2 separate regions of the Homo sapiens genome follow, and region 2 is linked to region 1. Evidence: fine-mapped QTL for protein levels in blood plasma. A gene starts in region 1. The other region holds a variant in brackets. All regions are shown on one strand. Distances are between the middles of the regions.

What was found. A credible set is the group of variants that fine-mapping cannot tell apart. PIP is the chance, under the fine-mapping model, that this variant and not a neighbour inherited with it causes the effect. The UK Biobank Pharma Proteomics Project read protein levels with antibody pairs (Olink). The fine-mapping took linkage between variants from a reference panel, not from the people measured, so its PIPs are less certain.
Region 2: its variant is the best candidate, but not a certain one, in a credible set for the plasma level of the KAZALD1 protein (UK Biobank, PIP 0.60).

What each region holds. Positions count from the first base shown.
Region 1 is chr10:101,052,361-101,064,345 of GRCh38, forward strand. It overlaps KAZALD1 (Kazal type serine peptidase inhibitor domain 1), which reads left to right and starts at 9,629. Exons shown (of 5, transcript NM_030929.5): 1 at 9,629-9,755; 2 at 10,182-10,743; 3 at 11,901-11,985. The coding sequence starts at 10,233. It overlaps LOC107984262 (a long non-coding RNA gene), which reads right to left and starts at 8,391. Exons shown (of 2, transcript XR_001747569.3): 1 at 7,750-8,391; 2 at 6,235-7,296. RefSeq lists enhancers at 8,272-8,566, 9,493-10,381 and silencers at 8,694-9,113, 10,294-10,343.
Region 2 is chr10:101,104,441-101,116,425 of GRCh38, forward strand. The region is part of intron 2 of TLX1NB (TLX1 neighbor); the gene reads right to left. Among named protein-coding and RNA genes, the nearest start is that of TLX1NB, 21 kb to the right of the region's middle. The variant T/C (reference allele first, on the strand shown) is at 7,435.

The DNA.
Region 1 (11,985 bases):
CCAGTGGCTGAGCTATTGTTTGCACTTGGCAGCTCCAGAAGCATAAGACCTGGGTCACAGCAGCTTTGTCTCTTGTGATGCAGCCACACTTTCAAAAATGTTAGGCCAGGCCAGGCACAGTGACTCATGCCTGTAATCCTAGCACTTTGGCAGGCTGAGGCGGGCAGACTGCCTGAGCTTAGGAGTTTGAGACAGCCTGGGCAACATGGTGAAACCCTGTCTCTACTAAAATACAAAAAATTAGCCAGGCATGGTGGTACACACCTGTAGTCACAACTACTCAGGAGGCTGAGGCATGAGATTTGCTCAAACCTGGGAGGCGGAGGTTGCAGTGAGCCAAGATGGTGCCACTGCACTCCAGCCTGGGTGACAAAGCGAAACTCCGTCTCTAAACAAAACAAAAATGTTAGGCCAGGTGTGGTGGCATGTGCTGGTAATCCCAGCACTTTGGGAGGCTGAGGTGGGAGGATTGCTTGAGCCCAGGAGTTTGAGTTCAGCCTGGGCAACATAGCAAGACTTCGTTTCTACAAATAATTTTTAAAAATTAGCTGGGTGTACTGACAGGCGGCGGTGGTCCCAGGTACTTGGGAGACTGAGGCACAAGGACTGCTTGAGCCCAGAAGGTCAAGGCTGCAGTGAGCTGTGATTGCGCCACTGCACTCCAGTCTGGGAGATGAAGAAAGACCCTTTCTCAAAAAAAAAAAAAAAAAAAGTTGTTGAGGGGAGTGTGACAGCAAGTCAAAAAGTCCCAGGACCCAGGGGATCTTAACCCCCAATTTAGAGCCCTCAAATTCTACACACTTCTTTAGTTCATCAACTTCTATTTAATTCTACTCAACAGATTTCCCATCTGTATCCCCCACACTGGGGGACAGATCCAGCAGGTTTGTTGGGAAGTTCTCCTGATTGCCACTTTTTTGTTTTGTTTTTGGAGACGGGGTCTTGCTTTGTCGCCCAGGCTGGAGTGCAGTGGCACAATCGTGGTTCACTGCAGCCTTGAACTCCTGGGCTCAAGCAATCCTCCCACCTCAGCCTCCCAAGTAGCTGTGACTATAGGTGCAGGCCACCATGCTAAGCTATTTGGGGAGGGGGGTAGAGGCAGGGTATCCTTATGTGCCCAAGGCACCTGGCCTCAAGTGATCCTCTTGCCTTGGCCTCCCAAAGCACTAGGATTACAGGCATGAGCCACTGCTCCTGGTCCTGTGATTGTGACATTTTGCTACCTCTCTTCTTGTATCTTACCCTTGGGGAAAATGATAGAAAAGGCACAAAAAATTCTGGATTTTGGCAGGCTGAGTATGTTGACATGGAATGCTTATGAACTTTTATACATGCACAGCATTCTATGAATCATATTCTGATGCTCTGCTGGGACCTGAGATTCTCCATGTGGTTTGGTTGCTTAAAAGCCAAGTAGTTCCTAGCTAATTAGTCCTTTTTATTTCCCATCAGCCCTGAGAAAGCCCCCACTGTTTCTTGCTTGGAGTTCTGAGCATACACTTGTCAGGCTCTTCCTTAGTTTCAGTGAACTGGTCAGCTGAGGGGAGTCCCAACACTCCACAGAAGCCAACACTAGACTCTGTTATTTCTCAAGTGCAAAGGTTGAAAGTGGGATATCCAGGCCGGGTGCAGTGGCTCATGCTTGTAATCCCAGCACTTTGGAAGGCCGAGGCAGGCAGATCACCTGAGGTCAGGAGTTCGAGACCAGCCTGGCCAACATGGCGAAACCCCATCTCTACTAAAAATACAAAAAAATTAGCCGGGCATGGTGGCAAGTGCCTGTAATCCCAGCTACTCAAGAGGCTGAGGCAGGAGAATTGCTTGAACCCGGGAGGCAGAGCTTGCAGTGAGCCAAGATCGTGCCATTGCACTCCAGCCTGGGTGACAGAGACACTGTCTCAAAAACAGAAGAAGAAGAAGAAAAAAGTGGGATATCCAGTGCTTTGGGAGACCAGGAGTTTAAGATCAGCCTGGGCAACAGAGCCAGACCCTGTCTCTACCAAAAAAAATTATCCAGGTGTGGTGGCATGCACCTGTAGTTCCAGCTACTTGGGAGGCTGAGGCAGGATTGCTTAACGCCAGAAGTTCAAGGCTGCAGTGAGCTATGATCATGCCACTGCACTCCAGCCATGGCCACAGAAAAAGATTCTATCTCTTAAAAAAAAAAAAAAAGGAAGGAAATAAAGTGGGATGTCAGCAAAGATATTGTCACAATGTGGTTTTGGGGTCTAAGATCTCCCCCTGGTCCCTGTGGTCTTGATGGGGCACTCAGGAAGATGGCCTCCTCCCTTTACAGGGGTTGTCTTAATTTTGATTTCCCAGAAAGCAGATCCCAAGGCAAGGATTTTGGTACAAGTAGTTTATTTGGGAGTTTATCCCAGAAAACACAGTGAGGGGGAAGGGAAGTCAGAGAGAGGAGGAAAACCAAATAAAGGATGCATTAATGAGCAGGTTACCACTGAGGACAACTGTGACTCAGTCTCTCTAAGCCTTCTGCAAAACTGTGGAGAACACACCTCAAAATTATCCCACTGAAGGGTAAGGAACAGGATTATCTGTCCTCTATTGTTTTTCCTCACCGGATGTGGCTTGCTCCTGAGTTGTTACCTCCACAGCATTTCCAGCCTGCCCTGCATGTCAGCCAAGCTGACTCTAGGGGCTAAAGAACTCCCTCCGACAGACAGACACACCGGGTCATAAAGGAACTATCTGCAGGTAACCTTTGGAGTGAGCCAAGGGTATATGAGTGAGGTACTGACTGCATCTGCTATGGGGTTTGTGGTCCAGGGTGGTGGCTCCTGGGCCATGTGGTGAATTATTGTTGAGCACATCACCTAAACAGAGTCAATAAAAGGTTTCCCTGAGATGTGATATACTGATACATTTTTCTGGGCGTCCTAAGTATGATGTAGCCGGGAGCTGTTTATGGACTTCTTCCCTGGCTGTGGAAGAAAATACTAGAAGTGGTTGTAGACGAATCCATGGAGTGATGTTCAGGAGAGAGGTTTGGGCCAGAAATAGAAATCTGGAAGTCCGGCAGAAGGAACGAGGATGCTGTGGGGTGTCAGCAGAAAGTTATCTCACTGGCCTCACCTACAGAAAGTTGTCTTCAAGTAAAATTGGATGTAAGGGCAGAAACTTATCTTTCCTTCTGAGTGTGTCATAATGCAAAGTGAACTTCAACCAGTGACCCTGGGACTTTACCCATGTGCACAGCTCCCCCAACAGGTAGACGCACAGTGTGCAAATGTGTGAGAGTGGGTTTTTGTTGTTTTTATAGAGACGGGGTCTTGCTATTTCACTCAGGCTGGACTTGAACTCCTGGACTCAAGTGATCCTCCTGCCTCAGCCTCCTGAGTAGCTGGGACTATAGGCATGTGTCACCGCACCCAGCTGTGTGTGTTTAGCTACCGTAACTAGCTGCCTTTCCTATCACTGACTTTTGATATAATAATTTTAAAGCTACTCATATATTAAATGACATTGTGTTTAGTACTATAGAGTCTACTAGCTTTTCCCTTGGCATCAGTTTTACCCTGTCATACCCCTGAAGACCCATTTACTCACCTCATGGTCACACAACTCTACACATGCAATAAAATTTCAATTATACACACACACGTAATATCAAACCAGTGATATCCAAATAAGGTCCATTGTTTAGCTAATAGTACTGTATAAATTTCAATTTCCTGGTTTTGATAATTATATCATGGTTATATAAGATATTATGTTATCACCAGGGTAGGCTAGGTGACAGGTACATGGGAAATTTCTTTGCTATTTTCACAACTTCTATCCAAGTCTAAAATTCAAAATAAAAGGTTTTTAAAAAAATATCCAAGAGAGGAAATCCTTGCAGAACTGGCCATTTAAAAATTTTAGGCTCTAAAATTTTTACCTAATGGCTAAAATTTAAAAGAACAACAACAATACCAACTCTTGGCAAGGATGTGGCATAATGAAAACTCATCAACTGCTGAAGACTATATAAATTCATACATCACACTGGAAAAAGTGTATGGTAATATCTACTAATGTTGATAATCCCAGCATTTTGGGAGGCTGAGGTGGGAGGATTGCTTAAGCCGAGGAGTTTGGGACTAGCCCAGATAGAGTGAGACCCTGTGAGAAAGAAAAGAAAAAAAAAGAAAGAAAAGAAGGAAAGAAAGAAAAGAAAAGGAAAGAAAGAAAAGGAAGGAAGGAAGGAAGGAAAGGAAGGAAGGAAAGGAGGAAGGAAGGAAGGAAAGAAGGAAGGAAGGAAAAGAAAATCTACTAATGTTGAATATGCATATCACATGAAGCAGTAATTCCAATCCTAGGCATGTCCCAATTTCTATAAATGTCAAAACCAGGTAAACTTAAAGTATAGAGTTAAAGGTGGTTATTGGCCAGGCACAGTGGTTCACATCTATAATCCCAGCAATTTGGGAGGCTGAGGTGGGAGGACTGCTTGAGGTCAGGAGTTCCACACCAGCCTGGATAACATAGTAAGACTTTGTCTCTGCAAAAATAAAAATAAAAAAATTAGCTAGGTGTGGTGGTGTGCCTGTAGTCCCAGCTACTTGGGAGGCTGACGTGGAAGGATCCTTTGAACCCAGGACTTTGAGACTGCAACAAACCATGATCACGCCACTGCACTCTAGCCTGGGCAACAGAGAAAGACCATGTCTCAACAAAAACAAACAAACAAATCAAAAAAACAAACAAAAAAATGGTTATCTAGGGAGAAGAGGAGGGAAAATTATCGGGGAGGGGCATGATGGGGGCTTCTGAGGGTGTTGGCAATGTTCTGTTTCTTGACCTGGATAATCACAAGTGTTCATTTAGTAATAATTAATTTAACCATATATCTACTTTGTGCACTTTTCTGCTTGTCTATTATACTTCATAATGAAATTAAGTTAAAAACAAAATGAGAACAAGAAATGTAGAAAGGGCCAGGCGCGGTGGCTCACGTCTGTAATCCCAGCACTTTGCGAGGCCGAGGTGGGTGGATCACTTAAGGTCAGTTCAAGACCAGCCTGACCAACGTGGTGAAACACTGTCTCTACTAAACATACAAAATTAGCCTAGCATGGTGGTGCATGCCTATAATCCCAGCTACACGGGAGGCTGAGGCAGGAGAATTGCTTGAACGTGGAAAGTGGAGGTTGCAGTGAGCCGAGATTGTGCCATTGCACTCCAGCCTGGGCAACAACAGTGAAACTCTGTCTCAAAAAAAAAAAGAAAGAAAGAAATAGAAATGTAGAAACAATGTACATGTGGAATGATTTAAGCATCTTTTCTAAGTTTATCAATATAACATTTGGCCAAGTCATCAGGTTGGATGGAGCTACAGTCACCATTTCAAGGGTCAATGGGATACTGAAGGTGGGTGTTAGGGGGAGGGATTGCCTTTTGAGATATACGAAGGTAGACTGAGGCCTGATTTAGATGTCCTGAAGCTTATTCAACTTGCCTTAATGCCTAGGTATTCCAGAAAGCCAGTTCCTGGCTATTCCAGTCTTCATTTTGTAACACTACTTATAGCTGAATTATGTTTTCCTTTTTCTTTTCTTTTCTTGTTTTTTTTGAGATGGAGTTTTGCTCTGTCACCTAGGTTGGCGTGGTGGCGCGATCTCGGTTCACTGCAACCTCCGCCTCCTGGGTTCAAGCGATTCTACTGTCTCAGCCTCCCAAGTAGCTGGGATTATACGCATGCGCCACCATAACCAGCTAATTTTTGTATTTTTAATAGAGATGGGGTTTTGCCATGTTGGCCAGGCTGGTCTCGAACTCCTGACCTCAGGTGATCCGCCCACCTTGGTCTCCCAAAGGGCTGGGATTACAGGCATGAACCACTGTGCCCAGCCAATCTTTTTACCTGGCCACCCCAGCTTTGCTACATTTATCTTGACATTCTAATTTACCTATAAAAATAGCCTCTACTAGGAAGCCAAGGTGAGCAGATCACTTGAGGTCAGGAGTTCAAGACCAGCCTGGCCAACATGACAAAACCCTGTCTCTACTTAAAAAAAAAAAAAAAAAAAAAAAAAAATTAGCCAGGTGGCTACTCAGGAGGCTGAGGTAGGAGGATCGCTTGAACCCGGGAGGCCGAGGTTGCAGTGAGCTGAGATTGCGCCACTGTACTCCAGCCTGGGCGATAAAGCTAGACTCTGTCTCAAAAAAAAAAAAAAAAAAAAGGAAAAATAACTTATAAAGCAGTAGTGAGTATTACACTCAACCATTAGCCTCATTCCAAATTCTCTTAGGATGTTTATTGATGATATAGATGATAAATACACATACAGTTGTGATCAGTATCCATATACTTCTTCTTTTCTCTTAACCTTATTTTTCCATACATACTTTTCACTTTGTTTCCTACATACATTATTTTGAGTTTACCTATTTGTCATAGTTGGTAGCTACAAAGTATTCCATTTTAATTATCTATGTTGAGGTTTTTTTTTTAATCAACCAATTCTAATATTCACAGGAAGCACAATTTCTCCATATCCGTCTTTAATAGGTCAGTATGGACCATTTGTTTCATTCCTGCTTCTTCCTCAAAGTTGCAACTCTACTATTTTCACCAGCTGTGTCAAAACAGGGTTTGTGAAGTGACAGGTTGAAATATGTGGATCATTTGAAGTAATTTCTTTTCTTTACCAAATTAAACAATGACTGTATGCCTTGTTTCATCTTTTGTTGTTCATCTGTATAGGGCTCTTTTCACTCTTTTATTTTTAAAATTCTATTTTTTATTTTTATTTTTTGAGAGGGGGTCTTGCTCTGTCACCCAGGCTGGAGTGCAGTGGCGTGATCTGGGCTCACTGCAACCTCTGCCTCCCAGATTCAAGCGATTCTCCTGCCTCAGCCTCCTGAGTAGCTGGGATTACAGGCGTGCACCACCACGCTGGGCTAATTTTTGTATTTTTAGTAGAGACAGGGTTTCACCATATTGACCAGGCTGGTCTCAAGCTCCTGACCTCAGGTGATCCACCCGCCTCCGCCTCCCAAAGTGCTGGGATTAAGAGGTATGAGCCACCACGCCTGGCCCTAAACTTCTATTTTTAAAGAGACATGGTCTCTCGAACCCTTGAGCTCAAGGGATCCTACTGCCTCAGTCTCCCAAGTAGCTGGTGCTACAGGCGTGCACCACCACACTCCAGCTCATCATTCTGTCATTATACTTCAGTTATTTCATGTGTCAGTGACTGAAAGTGAACGTATGATAATCTTGTGAACACAGGGCTTCACAGTGGAAAGAAAACTACATTCTATACCTCATTCCTTCTTCAATACAAGCATCTGCAGGAAAAGGGGAAAAAAGAGGCGGGACCATCTATTATTCAACAAATTTCAACTTCACCCTGCCCATCTGGATCTAGTCTCCCTCATTAAATGCAAAGGATGCTGCCACCTGGCTCCTCTCCCTAGCAGTATTCACATCATCTAGGCTAGAAAATCCCTTCCCTTTGGCCTGTTTTGCACAAAACCGAGTAAACATTTTCAAAGTATATATACGCAAAATCATTTGCTATCTCTTTACTATGTATGATGCGCATAGGTGTTACTGAATATTTTGGAGCCTTGATGGATAAAGTATGGGATGTTGAGGATCGGGGAATGTATCTAAACTTTCAAGTTGTGTCCTATTCAAAAAACTCCCTTCTAAAAGCATTTTTACGGTATGTAGGGTTTTAATGTAACAAAATCTCTACTTAATAACAGCGGATCCCCTTTTATTATCTTTGTGCCTACCTGGATGCACGGTTCCAGCATGTTCTCGTCACGAACCACAAGCCCACCAGAGGGCGCTGGTTCCCCGTCTACCTACTGTTCTCCATCAGCGACTCAGAAAATCCAGGTTAAACACTCAGGCAGTCTTTCACATTTAATCCACAAATATTTACCGAGAATTTGACGTGCCACCAGGCGCGGGGCTAGGTTCACAAGATACAGTAGTGAGTTAGGCACGATTCCTACTACCAGAAGCTTAGAGCATAGGGAAGACTAAAAGTAAGCCACCGTCTACAATAGTAGGATAAGTGGAGAGTTTCTAGGTCCGTGGAGTTTGTTGTTGAATATCTGCTCCAGGCCTTAGAAGCCGGCAGCAATTCACTAAAAGATCCCGGACTTGTCTGCTCTGTATCCCAGCCAAGGAGCTCCGTCCCCAAGGTGTTTTGTTAGAGTCAGAGACCTCTCCTTGGGTGATTCCATTCGTCAGCCCCACAAGTCCCCGTCTCTGGCCTTTTTCAGGGTCTCCGGCAGCTCTCTGACAGTTCCCCTTCTGTCTCAGGTCGACACTTATTCCAAGGACCAGGGATTACTCACAACTATCCGCCAGAGTTTGCTCCGCCCTTTCTTTTTCCTGTTTAAAATCCGCGGGCTCTTAGTGTTCTCGGTTCCTAGATTTCCTGTTCTGATTCTCGCGACAGTTGCGAGGCCTCGCGTGAAGTTCCCTTCTAGTCCCTATTTCGAATTTGAGACCGGGAGAGAGTGTCTGCCCTTGCCCACCTCCTCAGAACCCCTCTGGCCAGGGATGGCGCCTACGTGGCTCGGGAGCCCCTGAATGAATGGGCTTGGCCCAACTTAGGGGCGCATTCCGACGGGAGAGTCCTGGCTGTATTCCGAGGCTCCAGTGCGCATGCGGAGTCGATCCCGCGCAGGCGGGCGGGGACGGCAGCCGGGTCTTGTGGGCGGAGCCTGACTAAGTGCCGCCCCCTTGCCGGCTGCAGATTGCTATTTCTGCCCCCCACCCTCGCCCATCCCCCCGCGAGCTGGACTGCGCCAAGGCTTCTGTGAGCCGCTTGGGGCCGGCCGGGGCGGGGCCTGCCCGACCCGGGTTTGGCTGGCGGGCCCCTAGGAATGCTCTCCTCCCCGCCCCCGGCCCAAAGTGCCACGGTGGCGGTGGTGGCGGCCGCGAGGCCGAGTGTCTCCGGCCCTGCCAGCCTCGCAACCGTAACCTGTAATCCCGACCCGAGGGACGCCCGCCGGGGAGGCGCCAGCCCGCCTCTCCCTGCGGCCGCTGGTCGGCTCCGACCTCGAATCACCCGGCTCACCCGCGGGTCGCAGCACCTGCCGGATGTGGGGAGGAAGAAGGAGGCCAGATGAGGGAAGGCGGATGTAGGCGCCCAGTCTGTCCGCGCCTTGGTGGGGCAGCTGGGTGGGCAAGCCTGCGGTCGCTCCCGGGAACCAGCCCTGGGCTGCGGGGAGACGAAGGTGGTTGGTCCTGCCCTCCAGGAGCGCCCCGACATCGACGTAAAATGACTTGGCACCAGAGCTCCTGCCGCCTCCCCCTTATGCAGCTGCCCTCGCCGACGCCAGGGACTGTAAAATCAGATGGGACAGGGCCTAGCCGTTCAGCCAACACTTTGAGCTTCCCAGCCAAACTCCTACCCCCACTCCCCGCCTCCGGTCCTCACCCCCTTCCTCTCTCCCAGCCTCGGTGTCTGGTTACGGCTCCTCTGCTCGCATTGTGACTTTGGGCCAGGCTGGGGGAAATGACCCGGGAGGGTCCCATGCGGCTACATAAAATTGGCAGCCTTAGAACTAGTGGGAAGGCGGGTGCGCGAAGTCGAGGGGCGGAGAGAGGGGGCCGGAGGAGCTGCTTTCTGAATCCAAGTTCGTGGGCTCTCTCAGAAGTCCTCAGGACGGAGCAGAGGTGGCCGGCGGGCCCGGCTGACTGCGCCTCTGCTTTCTTTCCATAACCTTTTCTTTCGGACTCGAATCACGGCTGCTGCGAAGGGTCTAGTTCCGGACACTAGGTGAGCACTCTGTGCCCCAGGCCATAAGCGAGGCGGCATCAGCCCCCCCAGTTCTCACCCCCCATTAGCAGCTTCTTACTTCTGGAGCCACCCATTCTCTTTGGGCAAGGATGCTCAGGGGCCAGGGATCGGAGTCGGGTGGTGCACGGAAGTGGTGCTGGTGGTGGGTGTGCGTGCGCCTGAGCCTTATCACCCTTTCCTCACCTCTCTTCACTCCCAGCCCTCCCAAGAACAGCCCAACTGATTGCTAACTGCCATAACTGGATAATCCCTAGAGGGTCACTAGGCCTGTGTGTTGGGGGAGGCTACTTGGTAGCAGGGGAGGGGGCGATGCTAGTGTCATGCTTTGGTACAAGAAGCAGTGAGGTTGGTCTTTCGGCACAGGCCCTGTTTCTGACCTCCTGACCTGGCTTCCCTTCCTGGCAGGGTGCCCGAACGCGCTGATGCCCCGAGTGCTCGCAGGGCTTCCCGCTAACCATGCTGCCGCCGCCGCGGCCCGCAGCTGCCTTGGCGCTGCCTGTGCTCCTGCTACTGCTGGTGGTGCTGACGCCGCCCCCGACCGGCGCAAGGCCATCCCCAGGCCCAGATTACCTGCGGCGCGGCTGGATGCGGCTGCTAGCGGAGGGCGAGGGCTGCGCTCCCTGCCGGCCAGAAGAGTGCGCCGCGCCGCGGGGCTGCCTGGCGGGCAGGGTGCGCGACGCGTGCGGCTGCTGCTGGGAATGCGCCAACCTCGAGGGCCAGCTCTGCGACCTGGACCCCAGTGCTCACTTCTACGGGCACTGCGGCGAGCAGCTTGAGTGCCGGCTGGACACAGGCGGCGACCTGAGCCGCGGAGAGGTGCCGGAACCTCTGTGTGCCTGTCGTTCGCAGAGTCCGCTCTGCGGGTCCGACGGTCACACCTACTCCCAGATCTGCCGCCTGCAGGAGGCGGCCCGCGCTCGGCCCGATGCCAACCTCACTGTGGCACACCCGGGGCCCTGCGAATCGGGTACGCATGGCCCGGGGCCCCCACCCCAGCACTTAGGTTTCCTAGAGGCACTGCTCCCCGACCCCTGACAGCATTGGTCTCTGGCCAGCAGAGCAAAAAAGATAAGGCTATAGAGGCCTCGAGTCCAGTATAAAACCCTGCTCTCGCTACTGGTTCATAAAAGCTGCCACCTTAAGGTGGGGGTGGGGGGTGGAGTGGAGTGGGAGTCCCGGGCTTCGTCAGCAAGCTGCATTCGCTGAACCACGTGAAAGCTCCAGAGCTGGCTGGCAGGGAGAGACAGGTCCTCTGAGGGCGCAGGCACATAACCTATGGTTTGCTCAGAGACCCCCCCGACTTTTCCCAGACCAGTGGAGTCCAGGCAGCAAGACGGGTTCCTGTGAGATGCAATCACGTTTCATTCTTAGAGCAGTTTGTTCACCCAGTCTCCCCACCTCTCTGCTTTCTCCTGCTTTTAGGGATTAGTGAAGGGGAGCGGGAAGTTCTTTCTCTATCCCTGGGGACTGGGGTCCATTCAGGCCTCTAGCTTTCCTTGGTAGCTTTAGTAACTTTCACTTCCTGAGCCCGGGCTCTGCGTCTGGCTCGGCTGGGGCAGCCAGAAAACAAACACCCCGTGGGGGTCCCAGCAATTTCCTCCACTCCTGCAGGCTTCCTGCCTGTCGCACAAGTCCAGCTTCAGGTTCTCTGCCTTGCCGCAGGACTCCCCCAGGGGGTACTGAGGAGGGAACGGCTGCTTTTCCTCCTTTGGGAACTGGGCCTGTTTAGAAAAGGGGAAGGGGGATCTGGAAGGTTTTGATTACAGGCACGCAGGAAAGGCTGGGGAGGGTGAAATGAGGACAGGGGAGCAGTTAGGGACAGAGTGGCTGCCAAGCTACAATGTAGATGTGTGTGCTTGTTTGTGCATTGGGTCTGCATGAGGTTCTATGTGCACATGTGCATGTATACCTATCTCCACGTCTGCGTGGTACCCTTGTGTGTACCAGCATCCATATCTGTGTGTACCTGTGTGTGTCACGGTGTGTTTATGGATGTGTATTTACCTCAGCATATATTGTGTTCTGCCACAAGCATGTCCACAAAAATTTGTGTATCATGTCTTTGCCAGACTGGATGCCTTTGCTGGGCCATGCTATTCTCAGACCTCCCGCCTTCACCCCCAGGGCCCCAGATCGTGTCACATCCATATGACACTTGGAATGTGACAGGGCAGGATGTGATCTTTGGCTGTGAAGTGTTTGCCTACCC
Region 2 (11,985 bases), 52 kb after region 1:
GCTGAGGCAGGAGAATCACTTGAACCTGGGAGGTGGAGGTTGCAGTGAGCTGAGATCGTGCCACTGCGCTCCAGCCTGGGTGACAGAGCTAGACTCCATCTCAAAAAAAAATGTATCTATCTATCTATATATATGGCTTGGAATGAAAATATGGCATGCACATTTTCCCATATCAGAACATGGAGGTCTACCTCATTATTTTTAATTGCTTCACCTTAAGTATTCCATAGATGGGGGTGCCACTGTTTATTCACCCATTCCCACTGGTGGACTGTTAGGTTGCTTCTGATTTTTCATTGTTGTAAATTTGCTTAGTGAACTCTCTGGTATGTGGTTCTGTGGGCAGACATGGCTATTTTGTTAGGATAATGGATATCTAGAAATAGAGTTGGTCAAATGAAGATGGGTATTGTTAATTTTAATAGAAACTGCCAAAATACCTATCAAGAAGACTGAACCAATTCAGGGCACTTCCAAGAGAGGATGAGAAGACCAACTTACGTACACACTCTCTCCCATGCTGGATACTGTCAGTACGTTGAATTTTTGCTAATCCAATGGATGAAGCTAAAACAAATCTTATGTCTATTTTAATTTGTAGTTCTCAAATTATGATTGCATTTCTCTCATGTTGAGCATATTTTCCTAAGTTCATTGGACATTGTGTTTTTATTTCTGTAAGTCACCTCTTCATATACTTTGCCCATTTTATTTTTATTTTTATCTTTGGAGACAAAGTCTCACTCTGTCATGCATGCTAGAATGCAGTGGGCGATCCGGGCTCACTGCAACCCCTGCCTCCCAAGTTCAAGAGCTTCTCCTGCCTCAGCCTCCCGAGTAGCTTGGGTTAAAGGTGCCTGCCACCACACCCAGCTAATTTTTGTATTTTTAGTAGAGACAGGGTTTCGCCATGTTGGCCAGGCTGGTCTTGAACTCCTGACTTTAGGTGATCCACCTGCCTCAGCTTCCCAAAGTGCTGGGATTTCAGGGGTGAGCCACCGTGCCCAGTTGCCTATTTTAAAAACTGGGGTTTCAAAAATATTTTTCTTATTAATGTGTTGGAAATTCTTAATTCTGGTTATTAATATGTGTTGTATTTTGGCTGAGTGCAGTGTCTCATGCTTGTAATCCTAGTACTTTGGGAGGCCGAGGAAGGAGGATTGCTTGAGGCCAGGAGTTTGAGACCAGCCTGGGCAACATGCAAGACTCCCATCTTTACACAATATAAAATAAACAATTTAGCCAAGCATGGTGGCATGTGTGCCTGTAGTCCCAGCTACTCTGGAGACTGAGGTGGGAGGATTGCTTGAGCCCAGGAGTTCGAGGCTGCAGTGAGCTATGATCTTGCCACTGCCCTCCAGCCTGGGTGACAGACCAAACACACACACACACAATTTTATTTTAATTTAATTTCTTTTTCTTTAGAGATGGTGTCTCCTCCTCTTGCCCATGCTGGAGTACAGTGGCATCATCAGGGTTCACTGCAGCCTTGACCTCCTGGGCTAAAGCAATCCTCCCATGTCACCCTTCAAGTAGCGGGGACTACAGTCACGCTGGGCATCTTTCCAGTACACCCTGTGTCATCATATAAATGATCCGTTTCCTTAGCAAGCAACCTCTTCCCAACTACAATGTCCATTGGAGGGCCAGGCACGGTGGCTCACGCCTGTAATCCCAGCACTTTGGGAGGCTGAGGTGGGCAGATCACCTGAGGCTGGGAGTTCGAGACCAGCCTAGCCAATATGGTGAAAGTCCATCTCTACTAAAAATACAAAAAAATTAGATGGGTGTGGTGGCACACGCCTGTAGTCCCAGCTACTCAAGAGGCTGAGGCAGGAGAATCACTTGAACCCAGGAAGTGGAGGTTGCAGTGAGCCGAGATCATGCCACTGCACTCCAGCCTGCACAACAAGAGCGAAACTCCATCTCAAAAATAAAACAAAATAAATATAAAATAAAATAAAATAAAATAAAATAAAATAAAATAAAATAAAATGTCAGCTGGGGGACAGGGACTGTGTCCTCCTCATTTTTGTCTCCCTTGCACCAACACAGAGCCAGCACCCCTGGGTGAATGCGCATACACCTTCCCGTGCCAGGCACATGCCCACACTTCCCTATGCTCAGGCTGGTGTGTGGGGGGGGTGTCTCTGGGTAAGCACGTGCATGACAAGTGTTGAGACTGCACATCGACATAGCCCACATGCTTGCGTCTCAGTGTGGCCATATGCATGCAGCTAGCACACCTGTGCTTGTGGGCATGGGAATACACATGTGTCTGCCTTTCTTCCCTTGACAGTTTTCTGCCCTCTACTTCCTTGGGTCAGAAAAAGCAGGAACTTTTTCTCTTGGCAGGAGGAATATTTATTAACAGGGATAAAGTGAGGATACTGCAATCCTTGTAGTTTCTCCTGGGGAAGCCTCATTCTTTCTGAGGCCTCTGCCCGCCTTCTTTGCTCTCTTCTCCCCTCCTTTTTCTATTTCACATCTTTTTCCTTCCCCACTTCGGGAGGAAGCTCATCTAAGCTCAGCCTTTGCTGACAAGGCCATTTGGGCCCATTAGTTGCCTCTAATGAGTGACTGCCTTCTCGGCCCCTTCCCCCACAGCAACTGGGAGGCAGGGATCAATTAGCTGCTGCCGTAAACACACACACACACACACAAACACACACACACACCCTTACATGTGTATTTATGCTTCCACATGTATATGTACACGTCACATACTATATATGATCATAAATACACTCATAGCAAATACACATACATCTTCTCTTCTTGACCAGTAATATCTCCTAGGGGTCTCTACTCTGCTCCTTGCTCTGTTCACCAAGAAGAACACCCATGGCCAACCCCACACTCCCCAGCTCAAACCCAGATTCCCACGATTCGAAATGAAGTTCAACTCTCATGTTTTACAGGTGGCCAAATTGAAGCTCAGAGTAGGGAGGTGACTTGTCCAAAATCCCTCAGTCAGTTAGAAGCCAAGCTGAGCTTATGCTCAGTCCTATGCCCTCTGATGCCCAGTGCAGTGCTACTGCATCCGAGAGAGAAGCGGGGTGTCCCATGCAGGCCCACCTTGATCACAACAGAGCTGTGGCGCTTCAAAGGTAGCATGTCTAGGTTAGGGTGTGCAGGCATGATCCTTAAGGTGATAGGGACTGGGGAGGCTCTGCCATGAACCAAGGAGGGAGAGGGTGGGCTTTCAGGGAGGCCTGCCTTGTCCCCTGGGTTGGCCTGGCCTGGAAATTGTGGAGAGAGGAGTCCAATCTCAGTCTCCCTCTGGCTTCTGCAAGTCTCACCGTGGCTGTCTCTCCCTCCACCGAGTACTGACCTCAGGAATCCCTGATTCCTGGCAAGCTCCCTCTTGGCCAGATAGGAAGGGGGCACCTCACTGAGTACCCTGTTCCAAAGTGTCCTCTGGGGGAAGATAGGTTCCATCCTGGCCTTGGCCCTGGCCTGTTCTCCAGATTCCACACTAGGACGGGAGGTGTGAGGACTGGGTCCAGGCCTGAGGCACGCAAGACCCAGCAAAGTCCTGCATGACCAGCCTAGGCCACCTGGGTCAGAATGCCGTGGCACCACTGTGGCCAGCCACTTGGAGACATTCGTAACAAATACACATACATCCTCAGCAGCTGGGTTTATGGCTGAGTCTTAGCAATTTTGTCTCCTAAGGTCCCAGCCCTGCCAGGGACCCAGGCCCTGAATGGAAGAGCTGAGGACGGGTCTGAGCGGCCCTTGGGGAAACTTACCCAGGAGGGGTCACAGCAGGGGCAGGGGCTTCCAGAGCCCCCTTTCACCCCAGAAGCTGGAAATGATACTCTTCTTGCCCCCGCTCAGTCCCTCTCCCAGAGGCGGATGTTGTTGGGGGGCTGCAGTTCTCATCTACAGGCCCCTCTTCTCCCTGGGAGCCCCAGACCCCGCCTCCTCTCCCTATCCTGAGTCCCTGGCTGGAGCTACTGTGGAGACTGAGGCCTGTTACCTGCCACTCTCCATAGCCCTCAAGGCCGCAGTGAAGCCTGCCGGGGGCTTGAGGGGGCATCCTGGGAGCCCATCCCTTGGCTGATCTGGGTCTCAGTCAAGTCCCCAGGCCTGCTCCCTGGCCTCCCCCTCAGCAGGGCTTAGCTCAGCAAGTCCTCCCTTAGATTAAGTTTCCAAAGGGAATGTCCTTTTCCAGCGCGGCCCTCGCCCTACCCTGAAAGGCTCAGAGCAGCAGAGTCTTGGCTCTAGGGGTGTTGAGCCAGCAGGTGCCAACAGGGGATGGAGGAGGCAATGGGCCCTGGGGCAAGGGCAGTGGGGGACATGGGCTCCAGGTCGGGAAGACTTGGGCTGAAATCCTAACTTCCATTTAGTACCTGAGTGGCCTTGGAGAGCTATGCCACTTTTTTCCTAGAGAGCTTGTTAAAATACAGTACCGGGCCGGCGCGGTGGCTCACGCCTGTAATCCCAGTATTTTGGGGGCCGAGGCAGGCGGATCACCTGATGTCAGGAGTCCAAGACCAGCCTGGCCAACATGGCGAAACCCCATCTCTACTAAAAGTACAAAAATTAGCCGGGTGTGGTGGCACATGCCTGTAATCCCAGCTACTCGGGAGGCTGAGGCAGGAGAATGGCTTGAACCCTGGAGGCGGAGGTTGCAGTGAGCCAAGATCACACCACTGCACTCCAGCCTGTGGATGGAGCGAGACTCCATCTCAAAAAAAAATAAAAATAAAACGCAGTACCCCACTCTTAAGAGTTTTGTTTTTTTTTTTTTTTTGAGATGGAGTCTTGCTCTTCGACCAGGCTGGAATGCAGTGGCACGATCTCGGCTCACTGCAACCTCTGCCTCCTGAGTTCAAGCAAGTCTCTGCCTCAGCCTCCTGAGTGAGTAGCTGGGATTACAGGTGCCTGCCACCACGCCCGGCTGATTTTTGTATTTTTTAGTAGAGATGGGGTTTCACCATCTTGGCCAGGCTGGTCTTGAACTCCTGACCTCGTGATCCACCTGCCTCAGGCTCCCAAAGTGCTGGAATTACAGGCATAAGCCACCGTGCCCGGCCAGAGATTTCTTAATGTGTAAAATGAGGAGAACAAGGGGTTCTCCACAAAGACTTCCTCGCAAGAATGAGAAGCCATGTATAATCTCTATTACTGTTTACTTACGTGTGCACTGACAATTTTTGGAAGGGCATACCTCCAGAAATGGGAATAACAGGAGGAAGGAGGGAGCCTTTTACTTTTCACTTTATTCTCTTTTGTCCTGTTTTAATTTTACTATGAAGCATGCTTTATTTTTATTTAAAGAAAGGAAGGGAAAGAAAAGAAAAGATGAACCGCTCCCAGCCAAATAGCTGAGCCCCAGTTGAGTCAGTAAACGTAGTCTTAATTGTTATCTGTTAAATAGTTAACAACCCATCCTTCACTGGGCATTGTTTCTGGGTGTGAAAGTGATTTGTAAATAAATTGCTGTATAAATGTTAGTTATGATAAACAACTAGGTAATGATGTATTTCTATGCACAATTATGTATGTGAGGTGGCCTGTCCTAAATATGAGTGGCTGTGTATATCCTTCAGGGGAATTATGCAAATATTGTAAAGCGGTGGTGAAGAGCACGCTGTCAGTAGCCATGCTGCCTGGGTTTGAATCCTGAATTCAGTATCTACTGGAGATATGATCTTGGGCAAGTTACTTAGCCTCTTTGTGTCTCAGTCATTCTGTCTTTAATATGGGGACAATTAGGCCAGGTGTCTCACACCTGTAATCCTAGCACTTTGGGAGGCTGAGGCAGGAGGACAGCTTGAGCCCAGGAGTTTGAGACCAGCCTGGACAAGATAGTGAGACCCCATCTCCACAGAACAAAAATAAATAAATAAATAAAAACAATGGGGATAATTAGCCAGGCATGGTGGGGCACCACTGCACTCCAGTCTGGGTGACAGAGCAAGCTGCCCGCCTCTCTAAAATAAAAAAATAAAAAATAAAAAAATAAAATGGGGATAATACCTACTCCATAGGATTGCTGTGAAGGTTAAAGTGAACTAAGTCATGTAAAACTCTTAGAACATCCCCCAGCACATGGTAGGTGTTCAACAAATGTTTTTTATTTTGTGTATCTACGTGAGCATGTTAATGTTTCTCATCCCTTTAACAGGAGGAGCAGGTGGCCAGACACGGTGGCTCACGCCTGTAACCCCAGTACTTTGGGAATCCAAGTGGGGAGGATCACTTGAAGCCAGGAGTTAATAATAATAATAATAATAATAATAATAATAATAATAATAAAAGGAGGAACATTGTCTGACCCTTCCCCCATTAGAGGGGCTTTGTGGCTCTGTCCATCCTTTCAGTCTGTTTGTAGACACTTAACTTTGGTAACTGCGAGCATCTGGAGTGCTTGAGGAAGCTGGGCTTGCTCAGAGCTCCCATCCTAACAGGGAGCCCTGGGAGTGGAGGAGAGACACACATCTAGCTTGCATCCCACCATCGATGCTTCCAGGACACTTCTGGGGGTGGCAATATACCCATTGTGCCCCTGGGTCACTCAGATAAAATATCAGCTGAGCCAGGAGGGAACCACTGAGGGTGGGGGTGGAGAAAAGTAGGTCACTCTCAGAGGCCATCCAAGAGCCAGGGGCAGGGAGGGGCAAGGCGGGGGCGGGAGCAGTTTATAAGGGAGGCTCTGCAAGCTCAGGTCAGAGAGAGGTGTCATTCCAGCAGCAGTGGCAAGCTTAATTCCCCATCCTCTTCTGCAGGGTCAGCCTGCCCTCCCACCCACCCCACTCCCAGCTCTTGCTGCTTCTGATGCTGCTGGGAGGGCTGTTCCAGTGCATCCCACCTCTGGAGGCACCTCTGGGAGATGCTGGGCTGCCAGGCAGGTTGAGCAGGTTTGAGAGAAGGTGGGAGGGACCCTGACTTGGAGGAGGGACCTGGGCCTGGAATGGAGCCGGGTTCCTCAGGCGCCCAGACAGGTGGCAGCCTGAGGAGGGGTGCAAATGTGCTCAGAGCCAGAGCCCAGCCTGGAGGGAGATGGGGGAGCTAAGACAGGCTGACCTCCACCCCTGGGCTGCACAGCCCCGTTCCCAGTGTAGGCCCTATGTCCCAGAGACCTGCAGAAGTCAGAGATTCTGAATGCAAAACTGGGACATAGGGTCAGGCAAGGGCTTGTGAGACACATGGGATAACGTAATTTAAAATGGGACCTAACCGCTATACCCCCTCCATGGGGCATGAGCACACGCACTGGGAAATCATCACCTGTCGGCTTGTGTGTATTCATCACACAAGCACACACTGTCAAACACATCACCCGCAGGCACGAGTACACAATCATGAACACATAGATACTTGCAGGCACAGACACCACACGGGGATGGTGCTGGAGCCCAGAGTGCTCTCTCTCGCTTTCCAGGTTCAGAAATCAGATCCTGGGAGTTTAAATAGTGTGAC[T/C]AAGGGCCACCTTTGGAGGGTCCCCAAAGAGAGGCCCTCTTCAGGCTTTTCTCTCCTAAGAAGCCACTCCTTTTTTTTTTTTTTTTAAATTTTAGAGCAAACATCAGCCAGAAGCCACTCTTGCCTAATACCCCGCAGCCACGACCTCCGTCCATAAGTCTTTTGTCCCTCTGTGGAGTGGCTGGCCTTCCAATACTGCCACATTTGTGTGCACACCTGAGGTCTGACCCCTTCCAGGACTCCAACTTGGGGGCTCCTGGAGGGCTAACTCCTCCCTGATCAGGGTTTTTCCCCCAGGGACACTGCTTTATTATTTTTTTTTATTTTATTTATTTACTTATTTTGAGACAGAGTCTCGTTCTGTCGCCCAGGCTGGAGTGCAGTGGTGCGATCTCGGCTCACTGCAAGCTCCGCCTCCCGGGTTCACGCCATTCTCCCTCCTCAGCCTCCCGAGTAGCTGGGACTACAGGCGCCCACCACCACACCTGGCTAATTTTTTTGTATTTTTAGTAGAGACAGGGTTTCACCATGTTAGCCATGATGGTCTCGATTTCCTGACCTCGTGATCCGCCCGCCTCGGCCTCCCAAAGTGCTGGGATTACATGCGTGAGCCACCGCGCCCGGCCAGGACACTGCTTTAGAAGGGGGTCAATGAGTTCCAGTGAGGAGGCCAAGAAAGCTGAGGTGGAGGTGGGCAGGAGGGCTGCGGCAGTGAGGAGAGCCTTGATTTGGACAGGCGTCTCACATTGAGGCTGGCCACCCAGATCCACGTGCCTCCTGCACAGAAGCACCTCACCTGGAGGGGTGAGGAGCAGAGAGGAGGAAGAGCACGGGGCAAGTTGGCGAGATGAGCCATATGGGCACATGTAGGGGAAAGTGCAGGCAACAGTATTCCTATGCTATTTTGGGGGTAAATGGATATATGTAATACTTGTCCCCAGATACTCATGCTTATACACACACAGGTTCTCACACACATGAAAACATTCTTAAAGCAGACACACCATACGGACCTGGGATTTCACCCACAGATGCCCACTCTCACCCTGCACCCTCAGCCCCCACGTCGCCCTGCTTCTCACACACACGTGCTCACTCTCACATGCTGGCCAGCTCCCAGCTTCTCTGGCTCAGGCTCTGAACAGAATGTGAATGTGATAAAATCGACAGCTGAAAACTGTCCTGAGAGCAAAGCTGTACTTTGTTGAGAAACCTGAGCCCTTATTGGAGGAATACAAGTGTCTGTGTCTGGGGGCTCGGGGAGAGGGGAGGTCGTGGGGTGGTCCCCCAGGGCGCCTGTGGCCACTGGGCTGTTTCCATCATAAAAAAAAATGATGAAAGGAGCCGGGCAGTGAGAGCATGGCTGTGAGTAAATAAAGCTGCCACCTTTGACCCTGGGAGGCCAGAGCTCATCCCAGAACGAATGCTCATTAGGGAGGGGGTGCTCAGGCCCAGCCCAAGTTCTCCAGCACCGGAGGCCCAAGGCCAGATTCCCAAGGGGGAGGGGATATGAGAACCCCTGTGTGAGGCTAGGGGACATGTAGAGGGAGTAGGGGGTGGAGAAAGGAACAGGGGATGTGGGAGGGGGTTGGGGACATTAGGGAGAGGATGATGGTCATGGGGGAGGGATGAGGACAGGTAGGAGAGCTCTGACTTCTGGCTCCCCCTCCCTGGACTCCTCTCTCTGCAGCCTCTCCAGGTCTCTTCCGCTCTTGGGCTCTGAAACAAGCATACATCTCCCTTCTCCTGCTGTAGGCTCGGTTTGCTTATTTTTCTGATCATCAGGAACTATAGGCAAACAGGGGTTAGCAAAAATAACAAACACAGGGCAAACTACAAAGTCACCAGGAATCCCAGAAAGGTTGAGAAGTGGTTGATTCTGGCTTTGATTCAGAAATAAAAGAATTGGCCAGGCATGGTGGCTCATGCCTATAATCCTAGCACTTTGAGAGGCCGAGGCAGTTGGCCTGCTTGAGCTCAGGAGTTCGAGACCAGCCTGGGCAATGTGGCAAATTGAAGAAAGAAAAAGGAAGGAAGGAAGGAAGGAAGAAAGGGAGGGAGGGAGGGGAGGGAGGGAGGGAAAGAAGGAAAGAAGGAAGGGGAGGGAGGGAAGGAAGGAAAGAAAGAGAGGGAGGGAAGGAAGGAAGGAAGGAGAGGGAGGGAAGGAAGGAGAGAGAAAGAGAAAAAGAAAGAAAGAAGAAAGAAAGAAAAGAAGGAAGGAAGAAAGGAAAGAAAAGAAAAGAAAAGAAAAGAAAGAATTGCCAAACCCACATCCTATGGGTCTGTCCCAAACTCCTTTCCTACAGATCTGTTCAGCTCAGCACCAGACAGTCCTGGCCTGGAGCAAAACTCAATAAAGTTGGCTGCATAGATAAATAAGTGGATACATAGATAAATGCATGGGTGGATGAATGAAAGAAGGGTCTTGGTCATCAACCCCGACTCTGTCTGAGTTCAAACTTCAAGCACTTATGTGGGGCTGGCCTCTCGGTGGGGCCAGGCAGGATCCTCTTCCCCTTCTCTGCAGCTGACCTCTGGGCCCCCCTCCCCCCAGGGCTGACATTTCACTTTATTCTGTAGTCACCTTGGCTCTTACAGGCTCACCTGGTCCAGTCTCAAGAGAAGAAAGCACTTTGCGATGTGGCTCTGAAAGACCCCTGCCCTGCATGTCTCTTCATCCTCTGTGGACCCAGCAGCCACTCCCTTTGTTCCTCCCAGAGGCGACTATGTGGCCACTAAGTAGGTCCTGGAAAGTCCTATTTCGGCTAATTTTAATGAGTGATATAATAATAAAATGTAGCAATAAACTGAGTTTTCACCAAAAAGACAAGACTCCCAGGTTTTTATATCAGGACATAGGGGCAACAGTGACAAGAAACAGATCAGTATACTTCCCACCCCTGCCACCCCATCTGTCCCTGACTTAGAAGGAGGAATAGAAAGAGGAAGTTCAAGAAAAGCATCCCTATTTTTCTGTAAGGGTGAGGTTGCTGGAGGAAGTCCAGCACAAGGACACTCCAGGCAGAACAGAGTTATTGGGAGGCCAGTCCTCGGCTGGGGGGGCTGTCTCTGTCCCGTAAGACATGCCTGCAGCCACATGCCCAGAACTTGGCCTTTCTTTATGCCCCAGACACAATGCTTATTTTCCCTGAATCCCTGAGAGTGACCTGGCTGGGTCTTTGTCCCTGGGGGAAATAGGGAAGCTGAACCCCCAAGTGGGGAGGAGGAATCCAAGGTAGCTGACCCCTGTGTGTTCCCACTGGATGCTTGGTCTGCACCAACGGCCCCCTCCTGGCCAAATTTCTCTTGCTGCATCAGATGAAGGAGAAAACCAGGTGGGTTCAGCTTCAAAAACCAGCCAAAGACCTAGGAGACAGAGGCATCACAGAAGTCAATCACCATTTTCTGCCTCCCCTGTTAGAGTTCCCTCAACTCAACTCCAGCCTGAATCATCGCCAACTTTTCCTAAGTTACTCTGGGACAGACACTATTCTGTGGGCTTTACATGAATTTAACCCTCACAGGAGGTCTATGAAGAGATGCTGTAATTATCCCCAATTCCAGATGAGAAAACTGAGGTCTAGAAAGTCAAGTTACTGGTCCAAGGTCACCCAGTTATTATAATTATGATTATGATTATTATCATTATTATTATTATTATTGAGATGGAGTCTCGCTCTGTCATGAGGCTGGAGTGCAGTGGCGCGATCTCAGCTCCCCGCAACCTCCGCCTCCCGGGTTCAAGCAATTCTCCTGCCTCAGCCTCCCGAGTAGCTAGGACTATAGGCACCTGCCATCACTGAGCCCAGCTAATTTTTTTTATTTTTAGTAGAGATGGGGTTTCATCATGTTGGCCAGGATGGTCTCAATCTCTTGACCTCGTGATCCTCCTGCCTCAGCCTTCCAAAGTGCTAGGATTACAGGTGTGAGCCATGGTCCCAGCCCAGTTTTTATTTTTTTATTTTTATTTTATTTTATTTTTTGAGACAGAGCCTCGCTCTGTCGCCCAGGCTGGAGTGCAGTGGCGCAATCTCGGCTCACTGCAACCTCTGCCTCCTGGGTTCAAGCAATTCTCCTGCCTTAGCCTCTGGAGTAGCTGGGATTACAGGCACACACCACCACACCTGGCTAATTATTGTGTTTTTAGTAGAGACTTGTTGGCCAGGCTGGTCTCAAACTCCTGACCTCAGGTGATCTGCCTGCTTCAGCCTCCCAAAGTTCTAGGATTACAGGCGTGAGCTACCGCTCCCGGCCTTGCCTGGTTTTTAAGTGGAGGATTGGAATTGGCACCCCAGCAATCTGGCTTCTAGGTGGCTGGCAGGTATCTGAGTCTGGTTTGGGGACAGGAAAGCACAGGCTCAGGATCAGATTGGAAGATGAGTGAGTATCCCCAGCTAGCTGCCCTGGAGCTCTGCTGCCAGGACCCCCATTGGACCCACAGCAGGTAGAGGCGCAGCCCTTTCACAAGCAGCACCAAGGTCTCCTCTGTGCTGACAGAAAGGTGCAAACACATCCCTCTCCCTTCCCCGTTTTACTGAACTCTTACCTTCT